Homo sapiens: one gene and its partners. The protein of the gene in region 3 purifies or fractionates together with the protein of the main gene of each other region. This does not show direct contact. Each region holds a gene or a part of one and is shown on either strand. Other genes may lie near its edges. The genes, in order: PCYOX1, POTEF, ANTXR1, DMXL2, DNAJC12, LRP11 and CNTNAP3.

Region 1 (3,274 bases), 1.0 Mb from region 3:
GATACAGATTGGGCTTCTTAGGACTTCTAAGGCACTAAAACCCTTTGTAGGCATTTTCACACCCACATTGGTGATTCCCAACCCTGGGTGCACATTAGAAACTTTAAATAGCTACAATGCTAAGGTCCTATCCTCAGTCTTTGAATCTGAATCTCTGGTTATGGGGGGGTCTCAGTATTTTTAAAAGCTCCTGAAGTGAGGATTTAATACTAGAATGCCAGTTTCTTAATTCAGTAGCCCATATTTGCTTTTCATTTTACTTGAGATTTTTGTTTAACATCTTCAAGTTACATTACTAAGACTTCTAAATTTCACCCCTAATCAAATCAAGACAGAAGAATCAAAAGACAACATTCTGAAAGTCAAGGCTTTAGGCATGGGCACACGTACTTCAAACCGGTATGAAATTACTAAGAGTCAGGCATAAGACACCAGCTCCCATAAATTTTATCTGACTGAAGATTATATCTAGCTGTAAAATTCAAAAGGACTACTCCCCAACTAAGATGTCTTTAAGTTCTCCCTCAGGTACTCACCTTAAAATGCTCTACAATTTTGATCAAAATCCAGCGCGCCACTCCCAGACCTACTGAATCAGAATCTTCAAGAGAGGAGCTTGAGAATCCATATGGTTTAACAAACTCCAGGTGATTATTTTTATTTACTTTTGAGACGGAGTTTTGCTCGTGTTGCTCAGGCTGAAGTGCAATGGTGAGATTGGCTCACTGCAACCACCACCTCCTAACTCCAGGTGATTCTTATTATCAGACAAGTTTAAGAAAAACTCCTAATGGATAGTGAAAGAATACTTAAGAAATTTTGGAGATGGCATAAGTGCAATAGCTATACCTTCACACTTAATTAGAACCGTGTGTTTTCCTATGACCAGCAGGGATTACTTTTATTAAACAATGATAATGGCAAAATATCTGGTTCAAAATCATCTCTGCTCAGATTTTGTTCTTTTTTGCCACTGATAGTCATTTGGAACTAGGAGGGGAAAAAGGAGTGTGTCACTTCATAGTTCAGTTTTAAGTTTCTCATATAAGCCATCCTGATCAATCATGTCTGTGTGCCCGTTCCAGCGGTGATAGGCAAGGAGTGCAGCGTTGTGGGCTGCAATGGCACTCATCTCCATGGCACTTGCTGCACACTCTATGCCATTGAGGTAATAAAGTCGATCATGGAGAATGATAGAGGGGCATTTCTCCGGGGGCTTATAGTGAGGATATGCAAGCCATGGCTTCTTCACAGCATAATCATAGGACAGAAAGAGCTTTAAAATTTGTGCTTTAGTAAGAGTTTCTTGGGAAAAGATCTTCCAAACATATGTTCCATCTGTTGATGGCTCAGGATCTTCCTTTTCTCTCACAGAGGGCACAATCCCAATACTGTTAATGAACAAATCTGAATTATCAGTGGTTAAAACTGTATTAAGGCCAAATTTATCTATGGGTCTAGAGCTAAAGATAGATGTATTCAATTCCCCCTTAACTAAAGTTGTCACTATATGTTGATAATATTGATGGAATTCCTCAATTGGAGGATCAAAGTTGAGAAAAGTAATATTCGACATTTTTCGATTCAACGGAGTGGCCACCAAGACGATGTCATAGAAGTCTGAACGAGTCTCAGTTCCAATTTGGTAGACCACTTCATACATCTTTGTTGGATTTCCTAGAGGAAATAAGGAGGCATATATTTGTTTAGTGTTTCTAACATACCTTCTAAAAATAATTGTATACCTTCTTCATAATTTCTCTATAATTCTAAAGAATTGAAGAAGTTATATCCCTTAAGATAGTTGTCCCTTGCATTTTTATTACATTGAGGCCAATTTCTTATTCAGAATGTCAGTAAGTACAAAATACAGAATTTTTACTTTTGAAGGTAAGATTATCTTTCGGCCGGGCATGGTGGCTCACACCTGTAATCTCAGCACTTTGGGAGGCCGAGGTGGGTGGATCACGAGGTCAGGAGATCGAGACCATCCTGGCTAACATGGTGAAACCCCGTCTCTACTAAAAATACAAAAAATTAGCCGAGCGCGGTGGCAGGCGCCTATAGTCCCAGCTACTCGGGACGCTGAGGCAGGCGCCTATAGTCCCAGCTACTCGGGACGCTGAGGCAGGAGAATGGCGTGAACCCGGGAGGCGGAGCTTGCAGTGAGCCGAGATAGGCCACTACAGTCCGGCCTGGGCAAAAGAGCGAGACTCCATCTCAAAAAAAAAAAAGATTATTTTTCAAATCCAAGGAGTGATGCCACAGCACTTAACTACACTGGGGAATTTTTTTTTTTTTTTTTTTTTTTTAGATGGAGTCTCACTCCGTCACCCAGGCTAGAGTGCAGTGGTGTGATCTTGGCTCACTGCAACCTCTGCCCCCTGGGTTCATGTGATTCTCCTGCCTCAGCCTCCCGAGTAGCTGGGATTACAGGCACCTGCCACCACGCCCGGCTAATTTTTTGTATTTTTAGTAGAGACAGGGTTTAACTATGTTGGCCAGGCTAGTCTTGATCTCCTGACCTCAGGTGATCCACCCTCCTTGGCCTCCCAAAGTACAGGGATTACAGGCATGAGCCACCGTGCCTGGCCCATTGGGGAATATTTCTATATGGTACAATATATACAATTTCAAGTTTCATCATTTTAGAACTGAGTAAGAGATGACAGAAGAGAAGTGTTTCTCCCTGAGCAATCATTTTCTGCAGGGGATATCAGGAACAATAAGAAATTCAAGCTTACCTGTGTACTTGGTCTTTGTTTTCTCCTCGATGTACATTACTGAGCCAGATATAAGATTGCTTTTGGATGCCTGCAGAAGCCCTGAGCAAACAAGTTTATTGCCACCTTCTACTGCCCAAAGGCCAGAATCAGAACAGGACAGTGACACCGCCCCTGTCAATAGGAGGAAAAATGTGTTTTAATTCTGACTTTTTGTAAGAGGCTCTCTACCCACTCTCCCTTCCCAATTACATGTTCTACTCCAAATGTCTCTAGACATTGCTAAATGGCCCCTGGGAGCAAAATCTCCCCCAGTTAAGAATTACTGAACTAATGAAAGCTAAAGACCCTCTCCCCCTAAAAATGCACATCTACATACGCACAATTTTGCTAACAATGTCTGAGGTTCACAGAGAAAAGTAGCCTCCAATCCACAGCCTAAAGTCAGGAACCACCATAGCATCAGGTAAGCCCCTCTGTGAACTAATGTCCACCACTGTTTCAAGCCCTGGCTTACCCACAAAGGCATTGATGTCCGTGCTTTGGCCATA
Region 2 (4,119 bases), about 61 Mb from region 3:
TCCAAATATGTGAGAGAGATGAAATGGCTGTTTGCCACCAATATTTTTATGTGATGCTTCATTTTTTGATTCTCTGAATAACTACTTACAACGCATTAGCCCATTTATGCCAGAGGCTGCAATTTTTTGAATTTTTGCACGAGTGAAAAATCAAACCTTCTAATGACCTTGAGCAGTAGGATGTAATTAACTCCCTCATGCTTACCATTCCAATAATGGAACACTAGGCATAAGTGGTTTAACACAATCGTGAAAGCATAGCTATTCAAGTAACTAATTATACAACTGATTTTTTTCCTCATCCCTAAAACATAGTAAAGGACCAGTTATTTTAAAAATACAACACAGTGACAATTTTGGCTTGTTGTTTGTTAAGGCCATTGCTTGGCATAAAGAAAACAAAAAGAGGAGGAGAAACAAGAATAGAAACATGAAATAGAAGCAGCAGCAAAAGAAAATGAAGAGGAACAAGAAGATGAGAAGAATACACAGACTAGAATAAGCAAAAAGAACAGGTGCAGGAATTAGAAGGCCTATTATGACACCTTTTATCCCCTCCCCAATTCACAAAATTTGAAAAAGTCCAAGACCATCACAACAAAAAAGAAGGAAAAAATGGCCGGGAGTGGTGGCTCACGCCTATAATCCTAGCACTTTGGGAGGCCAAGGTGGGTGGATCATGAGGTCAGGTGATCTAGACCATCCTGGCTAACACTGTGAAACCCCATCTCTACTAAAAATACAAAAATAAAATTGGCTGGGCGTGGTGGCAGGCGCCTGTAGTCCCAGCTACTAGGGAGGCTGAGGCAGGAGGATGGTGTGAACCCAGGAAGCAGAGCTTGCAGTGAGCCGAGATCACACCACGGCACTCCAGCCTGGGCAAAAGAGCGAGACTCTGTCTCAAAAAAAAAAAAAAAAAAAAAAAAAAAGCCACACACACACACACACAGTCACCCCCTAAATTTTGTTAAGAATGAGACAATGCTGCCACTCATGCCTGGCTCAGAAGGAGGCCACCCTCCAGAGATTGCAAGAGAAGGGGGAGGACTCCTTTCCCTAAGTGCACCTCCACCACTGCCACCGAGGCCCATGGTACAGCACCAGCAGGTTCGTCCCCACCCCAGGTCGGACTGGGCCCTGCAGTGCTCCTACTCCCCCTTCCCAGTCCCCAGACTTTCTGCCACTACCACCACTAGCACCAATGCCAATACAATTGCTGTCGCCATCAATGCAGCAGCCCACCCTACAAGGTTCCTACCACCTTGCCCCCGCGGGCACCCTCCTACCACTCCTGTCGAGCTGCAGTCTCCGTGGCTGCCATCAGTCACACGAGGCGAGCTGCAGAGTCACGCCACATGCAGGCTCCAGCGTACCACAGGTGATTCCTTCTCCTCCTCCTCCAGCCTGGCTTGGAGCAGCTAGACGGGCAAAGCCAGAAAAGCCTAGAATGGGATGCAGGGAGTGGTAACGTTAGAGCCTCACCTTGTCATGCTGGCCACTGGGTGGCAGGGACCAGCTTCAGCTAAGGCACTCAGACCCACCCACCGAAGTCCAGCCTCTCTTTCTGGCAAAAGGTGGCCAGGAACTGGGGCGGGTGTGAGTGCCTATGCTGAAACCACCCCCATCCAGGTGCAACTGGCCAGAAATTGCTGGGCCCACCAGGGCTGCACTCCTTGGGGAGCAGGAGTAGGAGAAACTCAGACCCAGCCAGCCCTCCCCACTCAACTGCTGGTTCCCATTCCTGACACCTCCACCCACAGTGCCCTGTTCCCACAGTCCCCCGCGATGCCCACTAATCCCCACCCGGTAGTCCCAGGTGGTCTCCCCAACACAGAGCATGGGGTGTGGGCGGGAGGTGCAGGCCGGAGAACCGCAGTGGGTGTGGGGGCCCTGCCCTGCTCAAGATTGCACCAGGAGGAACTCTGGAGTCTGGAAAAGAGAAGAGTCACCCGAAGGAGCAAGGAGACCATGGCTGTTGCTGTCCCCACCACCTCTGCAGCCGACCAACACCACTGGCAGTATAGCCCCCATAGCAACCCTAACCTGACCCCTGCCGCCGGCAGTGTAGCCCCCGGACAGCACACCCACCACACCCTGTGCCAGTTGCAGGCAGTGTAACCCCAATACCCCCCCCAACCACCCCCTCCACAGGCAGTGTAGCACCCGATAGTGCCCACAACCTGACCCAGCCACAGGTGTTGCTGCACAAGACAATGCCTCAAAATCGCCGCCCCCACCCCACCACAGGTAGCGCAGCTCCTGATAGCGCACCCTGAGTAAGGGCAGTGCAGCACCCGACAACACTCCTAAACCACCCCCCGCTGCCAGCATTGTAGCTCCAAATAACCACCAAAACCACTCCCTGCCCCGGGCAGTGCAGCAGAAAATAGTGCCCCTAACCCCTCCCCCGCCACCGGCAGTACACGTTAGTGCACACAACCTGCCTCCCCCCCATCACCCCCGCCACCACGGGCAGTGTAGCCCCGGACAGCCAGCCAAAACCGCCCCCCTCCACCGCCAGCAATGCAACCTCGGAGAGTGCCCCCAACCAGCCCCCTGACACAGGCAGTGCAGCCTCGGGTAGTGAGCCCCAATAGGACACCCAACCCCTGCCCCCACAGGCGGGCAGTACATCCCCGGATAACTCACCTACACCAGGACATTTCTACCACTCTGGCCGAGCTGCAGTGTCCCACGTCACCACCAAACACAGCAAGGCGAGCCCCAGGGGCTCAGGCTCCAGCCTCCAGCATGCCGCTCCCTTCTACTCGTCTTCCTGCCTGGCAGGAGAAGCTCCCGCTACTGGTTGCCCTCCTACCACTGTCGACACCACCAACTGCAGTGAGCCAGTGTCCGAGGCTCCAGCCAGAAACAGGTAGCAGCCATGCCGGATACCAAACGCCCACACTTAAGAGCCTGAAATGACCTGACGCCACCTCCGCATGCTTTACCTACTGAGGTTACGCACATGTGGTTCCCAGACTACATGTTCTGATTGGATGAGAGAAAAACCTCTAGGCCTACTCTGATTGGACTTTATTTTCATGCTGTGATTGGTTGTCTTAAGACTGGCTCTCATCCAATCAGAACATGATAATAAAGTCCAATCCAAGTAACCCTGGAGGGTTTTTCTCATCCAATCAGAACATGCAGTCAGGAATCCTCCTGTATATAATCTCGGTATATGACTGCTGCTGAAGGGAAGTCAGGCTCTTCCACGTTCCCGTATTTTCCTGTGGAGCTGCTCAGTGCCCGGCTTAGAGGACCAGGAATGGGTAATCACCAGCCGTACGCTGGAGGCTGGAGCCGCTACACCGTGGCTCGCCTCGCTGCGACTGGTGGTAACCGCGACCGAGACGGCAGTGCGGCGGAAGCGGTAAGAGGAGGAAAAGAGTTTTGGGATAGATGGAGGGGGTAAAGAGGGTGGTTAGTGCCAAAGGGAAAAGAGGATAGTGAGCAGGAGAGCGCGTTGCAAAAAGGCGGTGGGGAAAAGATAGTGGGAAAAAAAGTTTTTGGGTAGATGGAGGGAGAAAAACGGGGTGGGGAGCGGGAGGGAGGGAAGGTTTTGCAGAAAGATGGTGGGTAAAATGTTTATGGGTAGATGGAGGAGGAAAAGAGGGTGGCAAGGGAGGAGGAAAGAGAGGGTGGTGGGGGGGAGAAACAGCGTTGAGCAGTAGGGAGAGAAGGTTTTGTGAAAAGACAGTGGGGAGAAAAGGTTTTGGGTAGATAGAGGGGGAAAAGAGGGTAACAGGTGGGGGAAGGGAAAAGGGTAGCCAGCGGGAGGAAGACAAGGTTTTGCAAAAAGATAGTGGGCAGGAAAGAAAGACGGTGGAGAAAGAAAAGACAGTGGGTAAAAAGTGTTTGGGTAGATGGTGGGGGGAAAGAGGGTAACGAGGAGGAGGAAAGAGGGTGACGAGAGGGAGCAGGGAAAGAGAGTTGGGAAAAAAATGGGAAAATAGTTTGGGGTAGATGGAAGGCAAAAAAGAGAGTGGCAAGCAGGATAGGGCAAAGAAGAGGACGAGTGGGAAGGGGGGAAGACTGTGAAAAGACAGTAGGGAATATTCTGGGGGGTGGATGGAGGGGGAAAAGGGGAGGTGAGCAGGAGTGGGGAGAAGGCTT
Region 3 (2,649 bases):
TGAATTAAAACTGCTAGGAGGGATAAAGTGAGTTGTATCAGAAATGCAGAAGCAATACAAAGATTTTGAGATGTACATAGAAAGGTATTTATTGCAGCACTGTCCACAACACTGTCTGGTTCTTGGGTTGCTGCAAATCTCTGGACTCCTTGTAAAATCAATCCTAGTTGCCTTTCTGCTACGTTAGCCAAACACAATCCTAACTGATGCAGTATATTTTTCCTGTGTGTTCTGTTTTCACTTTTTACTTATTTTCTCTTAGCATGGATTACATTTTTAATTTGAAATTTGTTATGAGAAATAAAAAATATTTTGAATGTCTGACAGCTAAGGAAGAAATGACAGTAATCCAGACAGTAGAGAAATTAGTGGAAGGCATGAAATCATTTGAGAAATGTAATTTAATGTATAGCACAGCAACCACTGTATTATGATCAGGATATTGAGAACTTGAATACGTCGCACTTTATAACAAACAGACAAATAACCAGAAAAAAGAGTTGATTTAAGAAATTTATTATTTTTTTTAAAAAAGCAACTTCCAGGGTTGTCATTGTACAGGTTTTGCCCAGTCTCCTATAGCATGGTATTATGATCAGGATATTGAGGACTTGAATACGTTGCACTTTATAACAAACAGACAACCAGAAAAAAGAGTTGATTTAAGAAATTTATTATTTTTTTAAAAAAAGCAACTTCCAGGGTTGTCATTGTACAGGTTTTGCCCAGTCTCCTATAGCATGGTATAGTGATAACTGATTTTTTATAACAATGACTCAGAGGCATTGAAGATCCATAACTATCTTCTGAATTATCACAGAAAGAAGAAAGTTAGAAGAGTTTAATGTTAAGTGTATTAAAAATCATATTCTAATTCTTTTAATTTGGTTATCTGAGTATGATAATATAGGAGAGCTCAGATAACAAGAAAAGGCAATTGGTTAGAACACTCCATTCCCACAGGATGTGCATTAACAGACTTTTTACTGCATATGTCTTTATATAGTTTGCAAACTAATTCAACCATTTTACACAGCATTAATTTTTTTTTTAACTGGGTTGACATTGGGCTGAAACATTTGCTTATCATCTTATAATTATTTTTTCCTGTTCTTTAATGGATTTTACCCCCATCTGACATAGTGTTTGGACTTTAGTGTATGTGACACTTCAAGATCATCTCTGCCCATTCTGATGATAGTTACAATGAGGTTACCCATGGCCAGATATCGAAGACTATTAATTAATCCACCAGCTCTGTTCTCAACTTTGGTAAAAGAGAGATCTTGTGTCTCACTGGAGGGTGCACCAAGCTTCAGGCAAGAAACTGTGAGCTGGCTGTCAACAGAATATGGTTCTTATCAAGGTTCTTATTAATGCTGTGCAAACAAGGGTCTCGTCATTTCAGTAACTATTTGTACATTTATAAAAGCAATACAGTCATGGGAAAAACCAACAAGCACAGCTTGGTAGAATAACCTGCCATGAAATATCATCGGCTTTATAATAATTTACTACAACTGTTCTTTTTATTCACACTGGATAGGAAATGCTTCCATCTAACACATGGAATACGAATATATACAACACAAATTTGGCTTTAATAAAAAAAAAAACAGTTCAAAAGGACAATAACACGGGGGCTGAAAACAATAATTTTGTGCAGTTTCCTGATCATAATCACATGTCTCCTGCCTTTTACAGGGAATGACACAAGTATTGATGGATTTTGTAAACCAGTTAAAACATTTTCCTGCCTGTAATAGCCCACTATGAAGATATCACCTTGTTCATACAGTCTTATAGAAGTTTCTCCTTCTTAACTGTAATTCTAAATAACCGGGGATGACACACTGAGTCGGTTTAAGAACAAATCCTGCTGAGCCTTTTCAAAATCATCATACATTTGCAGTTCCCTATTCCATCAAAATGCTTTGCCGAAACAACATCTTGTAACTGCACTGGGCATATGACTGATGTGCTGAATGGTGCATTTGCACTGATGCTCACCATCTCGTTGCTCAGCAACGTCAGCATCTCGGCTTGAACTTCTGAATGGCCGCGGGAATCACGCGGCAGTGCCATGGGGTGGGTGGACTGTTTTAGACTGCCAGCAGTCAAAACAGTTGTGATGGGCTCAATGTCTCTACACTGTGAGCCTGGGGAACCCATTCTCCTATGGAATGGTTTTCAGGGGTCCAGCAATGTCACTGCAGGTGGCTGAGATATTCTGGCCCCTGCTTATGAGGAACTACATGAAAGAAGAAGCCTAGTGTTCTAAAAATTAGACAATGCGGCAGGGTTGGGGAGAGGCTGGGGGGTTGCTTTCATGAGTCTGGAAATTTCTGGTTTTAGCTCTCTGAGAAGGCTGGGAGACTCTGTTGTAGGCAGCTGTGGGAGAAGGCTAGGGTTGGAGGTACACCTGGAGATGTGTCAGTTTGGTGTTGGCACTGCAGATTCAGCGCCCGTGGTCCCTGACTAAGGCACTCTGCCTAGATCTATTTTCCCCTGACTGTACCTTTTATGCCCCCTGGCTTTCCCATTCTCCCTGGAAACTCCTGTTTGTTTTTGCTTTCTAAGATAGAGATAGCAAGTAGGGTTCATTTCTCTCATCTGACTGTTGGGTTCATCTGACTGTTGAGTGGCGGC
Region 4 (3,500 bases), on a different chromosome or scaffold from region 3:
ACAACCAGTCTGACCAATATTTATTAGGTGGGAATTTCCTCATCCTAATAAGCCTGGGAGCACTAAGGGAGACCAGGGCTTATTTCATCCCCCATCTATGACCGTAAAAGACAGCCAGCCCCAAAGCAGCCATTTTAGAGGCCTCCCCTTAGGGACGCCTTCTCTTTCTCAGGGATGTTCCTTGCTGAGAAAAAGAATTCAGCGATATTTCTCCTATTTGCTTTTGAAAGTAGAGAAATATGGCTCTGTTCCACCCAGCCCACAGGCAGCCAGACTTTAAGGTTATCTCCCTTGTTCCCTGAACATTGCTGTTATCCTGTTCTTTTTTCAAGGTGCCCAGATTTCATATTGTTTAAACAATTTGTGCAGTTAATGCAATCATCACAGGGTCCTGAGGAGACATTCATCCTCAGCTTACGAAGATGACGGGATTAAGAGATTAAAGTAAAGACAGGCATAGGAAATCATAAGAGTATTGACTGGGGAAGTGATAAATGTCCATGAAATCTTCACAATTTATGTTCAGAGACTGCAGTAAAGACAGGTGTAAGAAATTATGAAAGTATTAATTTGGGGAACTAATAAATGTCCATGAAATCTTCACAATTTATGTTCTTCTGCCATAGCTTCAGCCTGTCCCTCCGTTTAGGGTCCTTGACTTCCTGCAACATAACAACATACACCAAGTCCTCTTATACAACAGTACACTTCAATAGCTAGTTTATCCTGTATGCACAATGTCTAGGTGCCAAAATATTTTTTGAATAAAGGATAACCAGTAAGTTATACGAATTCTTCTGGGAACTGGAAACTTTCAGTTTTACTTTCTATATTTCAACACTGTTGGAATTATAACTTTTTTACAATGCAGATATTATATTAATTTTTTAAACCAAAAAAATCTGAATTCTTTGGGGTTTTTATTTGCTTTTTGCTTCTAATGGCCAAACTGTGCTTGTAATTATGTCTATATAAAATTTGTCCAGCATAAAATTATCACAGTCATGTTTGAATTTTCCATTTGTCCACATATTAGCATATTCTTAAAATTTCTTTAACAGAATCTTGCTTCTATCCAAGAGTACTCCTTTGGTTGAGCTGAGATTACCACCAAGTAGGGTGGCCACCTCAATCATGTCTTTGCTAGGCTCCTCAATTTTCAATTCCAGGACCAGCTCAGCTGATTGTTAACATGTGTTGTGGACTATATTGTGTAACCCCAAAATTCATAGCTTGAAACTCTAACTACCAACGTGACTGTGTTTGGAGGTAAGGCCTTTCAAGAGGTAATATAAGGTTAAATGAGATCTTAAGGGTGGGGCCCTATAAGACTAGCGTCCCTAAGAAGAGAAAAAGACACCGCAAGTGCATGTACACAAAGGAAAAGCCATATGAGGAAATAACAAGAAGGGGGCAATGTACAAGACAAGGAGAAAGTCCTCCAGATAAACCAAATCTGCTGACACATAGATCTTGGACTTCCAAACTCCAGAACTGTGAGGAAAAAAAATCTGTTGTTTAAGCTACCCAGTCTGTATTATTTTGTTATGGCAGCCCCAGCAAATTAATACAACATATTAAACTCCTAAAGTACAGAATCTCTACACTCCAGGTATTTGTCAGGCTAATCTCTAATTCATTATATACTTAAGTCTTTCAAAAGCACCACTGAGGAAAATTTGAGAACCACCTGTCAATTCCTCCTGATACATTAATATATATCCTTGGAGTAAACCAGGGCAGCACAGCTTTACACCTATATTATATCAAAGCTCTCTGCCTTCATCGTATAAAATTGATTTTTCTAAATATGACTTAATGCCACTGACCTATACCAAGAAGTATTATAAAAAAATAGCCTTATGAAAAGATCACTGTTTTTACTATGTGTGTATTACACTAAGTATCCTTTCCATTTACTAATTTATTGAGTACTTTTTTGTACCACCTTCTGTTTTAGGTGCTAAAGAAATAGCAATAGAGGGCATTGCAGGCACTCAGGTTTTTATTCTGAGTGGAAAAAAAAGCCACGTGAAAGTCTGGAATAAGGGGCTAACAAGATTTTATTTGTATTTTAACAGGAGCATTCTAGCTACTATGTTGAAAATAAACTGAAGGAGGATAGGCTAGAGTCAGAAAAGGCAGGAAGACCATTTAAGATTCAACTGCCATTATCCAGGGGAAAAAAATGATGCTGTCTTGCACCAAGGTGGCAGCAGTAGAGATAAGAAGTAATCAGATTCTGGACGCATTTTGAAGGTATAACCATTAGAATTTGCTAACATTAGATACGGGACATAAATGGAAGAGAAAAGGTAGATTACAAGGAAAGTAAAGAAAAGTGGAGTTGCTATTTATTGATTTAGGGAAGACTGGAAGAGGAAAATGTTATGAGGTCTTTGTGATAGCTATTAGACCTTCAAGGAGGAGATGTCAAAGAAACAGCTGAGTATACAAATCTGGAATCAGGCTGAGAAGAAGCAATTAAGCATGGTAGGAGAAAACTAAGAAGGCTAAATGAAGACAGTGTTTCAATAGAGCAGAAAAAGCATTTTTATGAGAGAAGGGAGAAACTGCTAGAATCATGCACTTGAGTAGGAAAGAGAGATGCAAACCGTAAGGTACAAATCAGGGTTTGTCACAACTTCAGTACTACTGACATTTTGGGCTTGGTAACTCTTCATTGTGGAGGACTATCCCGTGCACTGTAGGACGTTTTATCTAAATCTCTGGCCTCTCCTCACTAGTTGGCAGTACCAATTCCCCACCTCCAGTCACAGCAATCAAAAATGTCTCCAGACACTGCCAAATGTCTCCTGGTGGACAAAATCACACCCAATTTAGAACCTAAATGGAGGAAGTGGCCTTTGCTGAAAACATTGGTTATTCATCCACATAAAAGGAATGATGGGAGTTATTATGGGAAAGGTACATGATGATAATATGATTACCTCCTGCTGATTAGATCCTCTTAAGTGTGGATGCAGTCAAGGCCAGAGATGATATGAAGAAGTTGCTAGCACAAAACCAAAATCATTACTCCTAAGAAAATGTATGGAATTTTGTTTTTGAACTACAGCTAACGGATGAGCTACATATATCTGTGAAATGAGTCTAAGCCAGAATGTTTATGAGTTTTTTGTGTCCATCTATGCTTACTTGCAAAACACACTTACGACTTTTTGAGTTTCTCCTTAGATCACAAGAAGAAAACACTACTGATTTAGTACGAACCAATGGGTTTCTCCTAAAATCACAGGAAGAAAACAACAATTATTTAGTATGAATTAAATTAAATGTTATTACTCCCAAGGCTCAGTTTTTAGAAGACAGTGGACCTAAAGGAACATCTCTCCAATGATAATCCATCTAAGAGGGTATTATTTATTCCCCTAAAATCACTCCCACCAAATTACCATGTATATTATTTAGAGGGGCCTAACTCTGTTTTCTGTATCTGAAAGAGATAAATGATAACCATTACATTTTTTAGGTGTTCA
Region 5 (3,500 bases), on a different chromosome or scaffold from region 3:
AGAAATTAACATTCATGCTCTGCTGGCGAGGATGTAAATAGGTATAGACTTTCTTGAAAAAAATTGAGACATATATGTTTGTATGTGTGTGTATATATATGTGTGTGTATCTATCTCTCTATATATAGATATATGTGTGTATCTATCTCTCTATATGTAGATCAGCTCCATGTCATCCTTAGTCAATTCTCATAAGGAATGTCTTCACTTTTACAATCAAAGTCAGGCTGTATTAGATAGGCATATGTATAAAACCCAGACTAATAACTATTATTTTCTTTGTTAAACTTCTGAGAACACCTTCGAATAATAGGAAAAGATGACTTCCTGTTAGGAACTGTAATTAACTATGTGTTTCCTCTTCCTGGGTGCTGTCTTTAACCATCAGTCACCATAACCTGCTTATATAACAAATAAAACTGAGATCTAGACTTGTTTTTAAATTTTAAAGTGTTAAATATTCTATTTTCTCTCTCTCTCTCTCTCTATATATATATATATACACACATATATATGAAGAGCCTTTAATTTATTTCCTAGCCTTTGATTCAACAATTCCAATTCTAGGAATTTGTCTAAGGAGATAATCAGAGGTAAGAAAAGAATAGCTGTAAGAAGGTCCAAGAATAAAATATAAATTTTAAACAAAAACCTATGATAGAGCAAGAGCACCATCAACTCAGACAGACATCGCCACTTTAAATTCCAGTTCCCTTTCTAGTCTCATGCATTTCAAGGAAATCACTTCTGTTCGAACTACAAGCAGCCAGAAAGAGCAGACAGTAAAACACAAATAAGACAGCTCGGGCGCAGAGGGAGGTGGGGGGAAAGTCTCTGGAGCAACTGCCAAACTTCACCCTCACAAAATGGGCCCCAGTAAAACAGTGAGCCTTACTTAATAAGCACATTCCTTTCCCTTCAGGTGTACCAAGATAGGGAAGCAAAAAGCAGACTCGGGCGGGGTATGCCTACAGCTGCAGAAAGATGGATGGGAACAGACACACAACTCTCCCTCCCAGAAAAGCACAACAAAGAGACAGAGAAGCAGTCCAAGCCTCTGATAAACTCTCCCACCCTGAAGCCTTAGAAACTCTTAGTCTGTAGGAGAGTGTGTCTCTAACCTAACTCAGCCAGCCGCCCCTCTCAGGTTTATTCAAAATAAACCTGTCAGGCCGGGTGCGGTGGCTCACGCTTGTAATCCCAGCACTTGGGGAGGCCGAGGCGGGTGGATCACGAGGTCAAGAGATCGAGACCATCCTGGCTAAAACAGTGAAACCCTGTCTCTACTAAAAATACAAAAAAATTAGCCGGGCGTGGTGGCGGCCGCCTGTAGTTCCAGCTACTCCGGAGGCTGAGGAAGGAGAATGGCGTGAATCTGGGAGGCGGAGCTTGCAGTGAGCCGAGATTGCGCCACTGTACTCCAGCCTGGGCGACAGAGTGAGACTCCGTCTCAAAAAAATAAAAAATAAAAAATAAAAATAAATAAACAAATCTGTCCCTGTTGACTGTCAAGCCGCCCTTTGTGTTTCTCTCCTCTTTCTTTAATTCTTACAACCTATATGTCCAATAATAGGATGTTTGTTATAGTTGATTGTAATGTAACTGTAGGTTAGAATACTTTACTCATTTAAAAAATTATCTTGTCATAAAAGATTTTTAACAACCTGAGAAAATTTAAATATTTCTATGAGAAAAGGTAAGATATGTGCAATATATTATGTTATACTGCATATAATAATATGTAAGTATTATGTGCAATTTAAATCCATGTCTTATCTCAAAAGGGATTATGTAACTATATATGTATATAATAATGATAATTATTATCATTTTAAATTTATTGACCTGGGTGCAGTGGCTCACACCTGTAATCCCAGCACTTTGGGATGCTGAGGCGGGCAGATCACCTGAGGTCAGGAGTTCAAGAACAGCCTGGCCAATTGCCAAATGGCAAAACCCTGTCTCTACTAAAAATTAAAAAATTAGCCTGGCATGGCCTGTAGTCCCAGCTACTTGGGAGGCTGAGACACAAGAATCGCTTGAGCCTGGGAGGCGGAGGTTGCAGTGAGCTGAGATCGCGCCACTGCACTCCAGCCTGAGTGACAGAGCAAGACTCCGTCTCAAAAAATAAATAAATAGGCCGGGCGCTGTGGCTCACTCTTGTAATCCCAGCACTTTGGGAGGCTGAGGCGGGCGGATCACGAGGTCAGGAGATTGAGACCATCCTGGCTAACACAGTGAAACCCCGTCTCTACTAAAAATATAAAAAATTAGCTGGGCGTGGTGGCAGGCGCCTGTAATCACAGCTATTCAGGAGGCTGAGGCAGAAGAACGGCGTGAACCCGGGAGGCGGAGCTTGCAGTGAGCTGAGATCCCGCCACTGCACTCCAGCCTGGGCGACAGAGCAAGACTCCGTCTCAAAAAATAAATAAATAAATAAATAAATAAATAAATAAATAAATAAATAAATTTTTTGATACTTAATATGTGCCAGGCACTTTTCTAAGCACTTTACATAGAATGTTTCATTTAATTCCCACAACTGTATGAGGTTAATACTATCATTATTCTCATTTTGCAGATTAGGAAATCAAGACATAGAAAAATTAAGGAATTCTCCCAAGGTCACACAGCTAATAAGTAGCACATCTAGGAACTGAACCCATGCAGTCTGACTCCAAATACATACAAAAATACACATATAAATACATACACATAGGCCAGGTGTGGTGGCTCACGCCTGTAATCCCAGCACTTTGGGAGGCCAAGGTGGGCGGATCACGAGGTCAGGAATTGGAGACCAGGCTGACCAACATGGTGAAACCTCATCTCTACTAAAGATACAAAAAATTAGCCGGGTGTGGTAGCACGTGCCTGTAGTCCCAGCTACTTGGGAGGCTGAGACACAAGAATCGCTTAAGCCTGGGAGGCAGAGGTTGCAGTGAGCTGAGATCGCACCATTGCACTCCAGTCTGGGCCACAGGGTGAGAATCTGTCTCAAAAATACATACATACGTACATACATATACACATATGCATTTACTTATTTATATACATATACAGATATAGCATATATGCACAGATAATTAACATGTATAAGTCATACTCCAAAATGTTAAACATGTAGGTTAACATTTTTATTTGTGCTTTCTTTGTATTCCACATTTCCTTATTGAACATATATTAATTTTAGAACTTAAATTTTAAAACTTAGAAACTTATCTTTTCCATATTCTGCTAGCAAAATATTTTTGTCTAAGCAAGGAAATACTCCAGTGTGCCATGGAGACTAATCCAATTCCCACTTGGATGAATATTCTCCAAGATTTCCTAGCCATACAAATGCCCTGTCTCTCCCACAGTGCATTAAAATTATGGCCATCTAGTAAGGCCATTTCAAGCCCCATCTCTTTCTGAAGTCTATTCAGATATTCTTTCTTTAATTTCTGCTGCACTTATAGACAGTACAGAGCACAATACTTAATTGTTCTCAAATTGTT
Region 6 (3,500 bases), on a different chromosome or scaffold from region 3:
CGTAAACTTAAGGTTTTGAGACTCTTCGTCCTTCCTCAAATCCATACTTCATTACATTTTCTTCAGTTTTTCTTCTTTCTTACAGGGTGTTTCTATGTGTATGATATTATAAGACTGATTTACAGCTCTGACTTAGCCACACCCTGGTGTATCGCAAATTTTCTTTAAAAAATTATCAAAACAAAGCATCAAATCACTGCAGTTTTTAAGAAAGCACATGACATGCAGCATTTTTAGGATAGAAAGAACCTGGAAAATTGAAAAAAATTAAAAACATAAGCAATACTAAAAATTTGACATTTGAGACTTAGACTAGAGACATATTGAATTCTCATTTAAGGCATAGCTTTTACATGTAAAGTTATAACTAAAATCAAGCAGGGGAAGGACACTGTGTTTGCATTTCATTCTCAGAACACAGACCTCCCAACTCCATCCCTTCCAGCCACTGCCTAGCAATGTGACATAGCCAACTCACGATTCTGGCAGAAGTCTTCATCAGACCCATCAGGACACTGCTGCACTCCATCGCAGGCGAGCGTGATGTCAATGCAGCAGCCATCGTCACAGAAGAAGTGGTAGCGTGAGCAAGTGTGCAAACATCCTATTTGTAAACAAATCTCAAGTCACACGAGTGCAGAAGTTCAGACTCTCAAGATGGGGATGACAAAGGGGAGTCCGTGGGGATGATAAAATGCACTTCGGGGAAGAGATGCAAATAATGAGGCAAACCTAACAATTCCAGCAACAGGTTCTGGAGAGGTTGGAGGGCTCTTTTTGAGCCTCCCGACTTAATTCTTCAGACTCCTCAGGGGCTCTTGGTCTGAGGGCTGTTCTCCATGCTTGCCTTGCCAGGAGGTGGCACACAGAAGCAACAGCCCAGGTCTCTCTCCACCCTTGATTCCCCGCCTCAGCTGTCTCCCTCTTCATTCATTCATTCATAGAAACCATTGTTGGAACCTCTTCTTCTGGCTGTCGATTGCTCTGCAGGAGGGCACCTAATACCATCCCATCCCCTGGATGGCAGTTGGCTATGTTTTAACAGAGATACCATTTATTTATTTATTTACTTACTTAAGACAAGGTCTCACTCTGTCGCCCAGGCTGAAGTGCAGTGGCACAATCTTGGCTCACTGCAACCTCCGCCTCCCGGGTTCAAGAGATTCTCTTGCCTCAGCCTCTGGAGTAGCTGGGACTACAGACATGCACCACCACACCCGGTTAATTTTTGTGTTTTTTGGTAGAGATGGGATTTCACCTTGTTGGCCAGGCTGGTCTCGAACTCCTGACCTCAACTGATCCACCTGCCTCGGCCTCCCAAAGTGCTGGGATTACAGGTGTTAGCCACCGTGCCTGGCCCAGAGGTACTATTTTACATATGCTATGTCTTACATTCTTGTCTCCTAAGTAATACTTTTCACTGAGATTAAGTTTTTACTATTGAATCCTATTTGTTGATTATCATAACGTCCCTGGTACTGTAGAGAATAAACAAAATTTAGTTATGGGCTGGCATGAATTTAGTTTCATGAAATAATGACATTGGCCAGGCGTGGTGGCTCACACCTGTAATCCCAGCACTTTGGGAAGCTAAGGCGGGTGGATCACAAGGTCAGGAGATCGAGACCATCCTGGCTAACACGGTGAAACCCCGTCTCTACTAAAAATACAAAAAATTAGCCGGGCTTGGTGGCATGCACCTGTAGTCCCAGGTACTCGGGAGGCTGAGACAGGAGAATCACTTGAGTCTGGGAGGCAGAGGTTGCAGTGAGCCAAGATTGTGACACTGCACTCCAGCCTGGGCGACAGAGGGAGACTCTGTCTCAAAAAAAAAAAAAAAGAAAGAAATAACGACATTTCTCCCTTCTGGAGTTCTTAGGAGCTTTTAATTTGCAGTGCAATTCATAGGAGCTACAAATATTTTCCTGAAATGCATTTTCCCTCTCCCTTGATTAAGCCAACTTTATTAGACTTAGCTAGAGGAGAACCGGGTGACTATCTGGTACTGGCAACATGGACTAAGGCACAAGGCTAGAAGCAGGTCACAGGAGCTCCACGGTTTTACAGGGACAGAGTGGACTAGACAATTCTCTCAGGAACATGGGGAAGTGGCAGATTATATGATATTCCTTCAAAACCAAATGGCTGAGCACAGTTCACAAACCCAAGTGAAATCTTGGACATACACTTGGTTTTTTTTTGTTTTTTTTTTTTTTGTAGATACAGGGTGTCACTATGTTGCCCAGGCTGGTCTTGAACTACTGGACTCAAGCAATCCTCCTGCCTCAGCCTCCCAAAGTGCTGAGATTACAGGTGTAAGCCACTGCGCCCGGCCTTGGACACATCTTTTATTGAAACGTGGTTAAATCAAGAGGTTGGAAAAGGAGTCTATCTTGGTGTGAGGCAATTTGAAGATATATTGATCCAGGAGGAAGAGAAGTTAAAGAAAATAAATGGTGATAGAAGCTCCTGCGGAAGAAGAGGAAGCAAAGAGCCTGCAGTTATGACTGAGAACATGGGCCTGAAGGAGAGTCAGCTCCGGCCACTGGGAAGAAGCAGGGAGCGGAGGTGGGGGACACGCTGGATATCAAGCAGGATACAGTTCCTCGTCAGGTTTCTTAAATTCATGGCATGAAAATCCCAGATATCTCAAGGTTTTATTTATTCTTTGGTGATTTTGGAGATGGATCCATATTTGTAAATTTTCTATCTATTTTTGGATTAGCAGCCTCCAAACTTTTTTGATCATGCATCCTGATCAATAATATATTGTTGAACAGGCATCTCCAGTTTATTTATTTATCTATTTATTTGAGACGGAGTCTCGCTGTGTCGCCCAGGCTGGAGTGCGGTGGCACAATCTCAGCTCACTGCAGCCTCCAGCTCCCAGGCTCAACTGACTCTCATGTCTCAGCCTCCTGAGTAGCTGGGATTACAGGCGTGTCCCACCACATCCGGCTAGTCCGGTTTATTTATAAATAATACGTGCATACTACTGTACTAACATGGGGTGTATCTTATAAAATATACTCAAATTTTAAGGAAAAAAATTAAAAATCAGCAAAAATATAAACTCTGCTGTCTTCTTTCTCACCCTAAAAATGTCTTGAACAACTCAGGGGCATCCTGTTTGGAGACTGCTGAGTTAGATCATGTTGGAAGAGCTTGCTGGCTTGCTGTTTGATCATTTTTCTAAGCATGAAAAATGTTCAAAATGTCAACTTATTAAAAATTGAACCAAGTTATGATCATATAAGCAGGGTACCTGCTCATCTGTCTACCTCAGCTAGTGTCACCCTTGGTTACCATAACATCTGGGTCATTCATTGCAAGACCAATACATACAATGCAGGGGAGGGAAACACTTGTCTCTTCTACCTCTATTTTCCAATGTCTCTCTGTGGTGTTTTATTAACTTTAATTCATAGCATGTTATTCCAATATAACCACTAAGTGATTCTAGACAGCAGTTAGTACTTCACCAATTCCTTTTTATTTTC
Region 7 (3,500 bases), on a different chromosome or scaffold from region 3:
TCAATCAGAACATTTCTTCTTGACTGTTTTTGTAATTCTGCCAAATGGGAAACAGTTTTCATGACAAGAAAACATTTGCAGAAGAAAATTTAAAAAAGAAAACATTTGCTGTAACAAACTAAATACCAAAAGCTTACAAGTAATTGGCACTGATCCATAGTACACATGTAATCACTGGACTATTACATATTTTTTATCTTTTTATCAGCTGTATATTTCTTGACCTCATCATTTAGGTGGGTAGCTGCCTGCTACAACAGAGAGGCAGGGCTTCTTGCCACAGAGGAGTGCTTGTTAGTTGACTGAATGAATTCTGGCAACTGATTTTCCCAACAAAATACATTTTTAAATGTTTTCCTTTTATATATTGGAACAACTATTTTCCTGTTTTTATACAGAACACATAGAATTGTAGTAATTCTTAAAATGGAATTCCCATAATTAACATTATATATCCATATGCACAATTTGGAATGAATTGTCTTTTTGTTTTTGTGTGAAACTTACACATTTTAATAACCTCATTCAATGTAATTAGTAAATAGTTTTCTTGAGGATGATATCCAGAACCCAGAGATACCAGCTTAATTGTGGTTCTCCTTATTGGCTATACTCAATAATTCCATCAGTGAACCCATCAGTAATTCAGAATAACATGGAATGTATATGAAAACCTGTGTCTGTTGTCCTCAAATAGTCTTGTCTCTTTGTGTCATAAGGCCCAACTCACTCTTCCTCACTTCAATGACAGTGTCTTTGTAAATAGCCCCATAGAAGTTAGGGTGAGGAGGAGGGATTCTTCTGAACACCAAGGACTGGCAGATAAAAGGTAGCTTAATATTCAGAACGTGTTAGGTCAGGCTTCTTGACACGGATGCCCATTGGCCAAACCCATCTTTGTATCTGTATCTGAGTAACGCATCTCCAACAAAGCCAACTTCAATAACCAGGTCTTTTTTCTTTTTCCTGTTGAGCAGCACTTAAATGTCAGTTTCTCCATGGACAGAAACTTTAGGTAGAGGGCTGTTCCATTTATCTCCTTCCTCTTTTCATTTCTTTTTCATCTTGTCAAAGGAAACTGCACTCTGTGGAGCCTTGTTATCACTCTTCCCTTTGGTGTTTCCTTTTTCATGTATCTTGATGGTATTTTTCATTTTTATGATCTCAGCAGGGTGCTGTTCATAGTAAAACTTAGACTTCAAACCCATCTTTTTTTTTTTTTTTCTCCTTTACCTTCTTGGAAAGTTCATGGGCTTCACAGCTGTTTTTCCCTTTTTCTCATGCTAACCTAAGTGATGTATTCATTGTGTGGTCTGGTGACACACAGTCAGAGATATTTTCAGGTTTTGGTCCTGCAACCCATGAGCCAACTCCTCCAGCACATAACAGGAAAGAAAACATGTTCCCAACAATACAAATAAATATTCCCATGATGTGCTGCTGAGATACACTGACAACTAAACATGAGCTTTCCCTTTAACCCCAACTTGGATATTTCAAACTTTAAACATTGAAAGAAGTTTATTAACTGATTTGGAAGTATTTCCAGTTGATTAGGGAATAGATCATTAGGGATTGCCATTGCAAAATGATTGGTCTCCTGTGGATAACAACACCAAAAACACGTGAGACATATGAATTCTGATTTCCATGTAAAAATAGAAAGTTATTTTATTTCATATAAAAATGAAACAACGATGTCCCATGAGGCATATTTACTTTATAACTTTTTATGCATAATAAAAATTACTATATTAGGCTGGGTCAAGGTGGCTCGTGCCTGTAATCCTAGCATTTTGGGAGGCCGAGGCAAGTGTATCGTCTGAGGTCAGGAGTTTGAGACCAGCCTGGCCAATGTGGCAAAACCCTGTCTGTACTAAAAAAAATTAGCCGGGTGTGGTGGCACACACCTGTAGTCCCAGCTACTCGGAAGGCTGAGGCAGGAGAATGGCTTGAACCCAGGAGGCGGAGGTTGCAGTGAGCCAAGACTGTACCGCTGCACTCCAGCCTGGGCAACAGAGCAAGACTGCATCTCAAAACAAAAACAAAAACAAAAACAAAAAAAGTGCGCCTGTGGTCCTAGCACTTTGGGAGGCCGAGGTGGGCAGATCACGAGGTTGGGAGATCGAGACCATCCTGGCTAACATGGTGAAACCCCGTCTCTACCAAAAATATAAAAAATTAGCCGGGCATGGTGGTGGGAACCTGTAGTCCCAGGTACTCGGGAGGCTGAGGCGGGAGAATGGCGTGAACCCAGGAGGCAGAGCTTCACTGCACTCCAGTCTGGGCGACAGAGTGAGACTCCGTCTCAAAAAAAAAAAAAAAAAAATTGGCCCAGGCCCAGTGGCTCACACCTGTAATCCCAGCACTTTGGGAGGCCGAGGCAGGCAGATCACCTGAGGTCAGGAATTCGAGACTAGCCTGGCCAACATGGCGAAACCCCGTCTCTACTAAAAGTACAAAAATTAGCTGGGCATGGTGGCGGGCGCCTGTAATCCCAGCTACTCAGGAGGCTGAGGCAGGAGAATTGCTTGAACCTGGGAGGCGTAAGCTGCAGTGAGCTGAGATTGCGCCGCTGCACTCCAACCTGGGAGACAAGAGGGAGACTCTGTCTTAAAAATAAATAAATAAATAAAACTAAATTACTATATTACATGGGCAGCTGTTAAAGTAAGAACTGATTCTTAAAATATTAGATGAAATGGAGACTTCACATGAATAATTTTTAAATGCAAAAAATAAAATGTCCTTTTTTCTTTCCTTCCCATTAGGCTTCCTTACCATCATGAGGATCTGTGGTTTGTGTTTCTTGGCTAATTCGGTAACATCCACTCCATTATAATAAAGATTTTCTAAACACCCATGAAAGCTTTTACGTCTGAATGCCCGCGATCTTCCGGGTGTCGGAATTCCCCCAAAGCTGATCTTAGAAAGAAAAATGACATAAATAACATTGTTTAGTGATTTTCTGATGGTACGTGTTTAAAGCATTTATAATTAATAGGTCTAGTACTAACTGTCACAAATCCATTCCCATTATCTTATATTTGCATGCTTGCTTATTCCAAATGAAGTGTTCTATCATAATGACAGCTGTTAATACCTTTATTTCTGGCACCACACAGTTTTGAACAAACTTAAAAGGAAGAAGTCAACACACATTTTCTGCCACATTGAAATTTTCAGCCATGTAGTAAATTTACCCTTTGTGGGTCATATGATCTCTTTTGCAGCACTCAACTCTGACACGAAGTACCAATGTGGCCACGGACAATACATAAAGAAAGAGAACATGTTCCAATAAAACCTTCTCTTTTGAACAAAAACAGGCTTTGTATTTTTTTAATTAAAAAATGTCCAAACTTGGCCTGATGCCCATAGTTTGCCAACCTCTGCATTAGATATTATCTTTTGCTATTACATGGTTAAATTAAAGTAATAAAACTGAATAATCCGGTATAGGACTAGGATCTTCAGTTTAATATTATATGCCAAAGCCA

Evidence for each region.
Region 1: the proteins of ANTXR1 (region 3) and PCYOX1 purify together in Homo sapiens (affinity purification with mass spectrometry; 3 studies listed by BioGRID and IntAct, with this or other methods). This does not show direct contact.
Region 2: the proteins of ANTXR1 (region 3) and POTEF purify together in Homo sapiens (affinity purification with mass spectrometry; 3 studies listed by BioGRID and IntAct, with this or other methods). This does not show direct contact.
Region 4: the proteins of ANTXR1 (region 3) and DMXL2 purify together in Homo sapiens (affinity purification with mass spectrometry; 3 studies listed by BioGRID and IntAct, with this or other methods). This does not show direct contact.
Region 5: the proteins of ANTXR1 (region 3) and DNAJC12 purify together in Homo sapiens (affinity purification with mass spectrometry; 3 studies listed by BioGRID and IntAct, with this or other methods). This does not show direct contact.
Region 6: the proteins of ANTXR1 (region 3) and LRP11 purify together in Homo sapiens (affinity purification with mass spectrometry; 2 studies listed by BioGRID and IntAct, with this or other methods). This does not show direct contact.
Region 7: the proteins of ANTXR1 (region 3) and CNTNAP3 purify together in Homo sapiens (affinity purification with mass spectrometry; 2 studies listed by BioGRID and IntAct, with this or other methods). This does not show direct contact.

The regions. Positions count from the first base shown.
Region 1 is NC_000002.12:70,275,137-70,278,410, reverse strand, and holds part of PCYOX1 (prenylcysteine oxidase 1 precursor), read right to left. Parts: coding exon 3,241-3,274; intron 2,898-3,240; coding exon 2,745-2,897; intron 1,678-2,744; coding exon 1,019-1,677; 3' UTR 1-1,018. UniProt on the Homo sapiens protein: Prenylcysteine oxidase that cleaves the thioether bond of prenyl-L-cysteines, such as farnesylcysteine and geranylgeranylcysteine. Only active against free prenylcysteines and not prenylcysteine residues within prenylated proteins or peptides.
Region 2 is NC_000002.12:130,126,423-130,130,541, forward strand, and holds the start of POTEF (POTE ankyrin domain family member F), read right to left. Parts: upstream 2,801-4,119; 5' UTR 2,650-2,800; intron 1,443-2,649; 5' UTR 1,287-1,442; intron 1-1,286.
Region 3 is NC_000002.12:69,247,179-69,249,827, reverse strand, and holds the end of ANTXR1 (anthrax toxin receptor 1 isoform 1 precursor), read right to left. Parts: 3' UTR 501-2,649; downstream 1-500. UniProt on the Homo sapiens protein: Plays a role in cell attachment and migration. Interacts with extracellular matrix proteins and with the actin cytoskeleton and thereby plays an important role in normal extracellular matrix (ECM) homeostasis.
Region 4 is NC_000015.10:51,612,772-51,616,271, forward strand, and holds part of DMXL2 (dmX-like protein 2), read right to left. Parts: intron 1-3,500. UniProt on the Homo sapiens protein: May serve as a scaffold protein for MADD and RAB3GA on synaptic vesicles. Plays a role in the brain as a key controller of neuronal and endocrine homeostatic processes.
Region 5 is NC_000010.11:67,828,189-67,831,688, forward strand, and holds part of DNAJC12 (dnaJ homolog subfamily C member 12), read right to left. Parts: intron 1-3,500. UniProt on the Homo sapiens protein: Probable co-chaperone that participates in the proper folding of biopterin-dependent aromatic amino acid hydroxylases, which include phenylalanine-4-hydroxylase (PAH), tyrosine 3-monooxygenase (TH) and peripheral and neuronal tryptophan hydroxylases (TPH1 and TPH2).
Region 6 is NC_000006.12:149,836,860-149,840,359, forward strand, and holds part of LRP11 (low-density lipoprotein receptor-related protein 11 isoform 1 precursor), read right to left. Parts: intron 605-3,500; coding exon 479-604; intron 1-478.
Region 7 is NC_000009.12:39,173,168-39,176,667, forward strand, and holds part of CNTNAP3 (contactin-associated protein-like 3 isoform 1 precursor), read right to left. Parts: intron 2,926-3,500; coding exon 2,782-2,925; intron 1-2,781.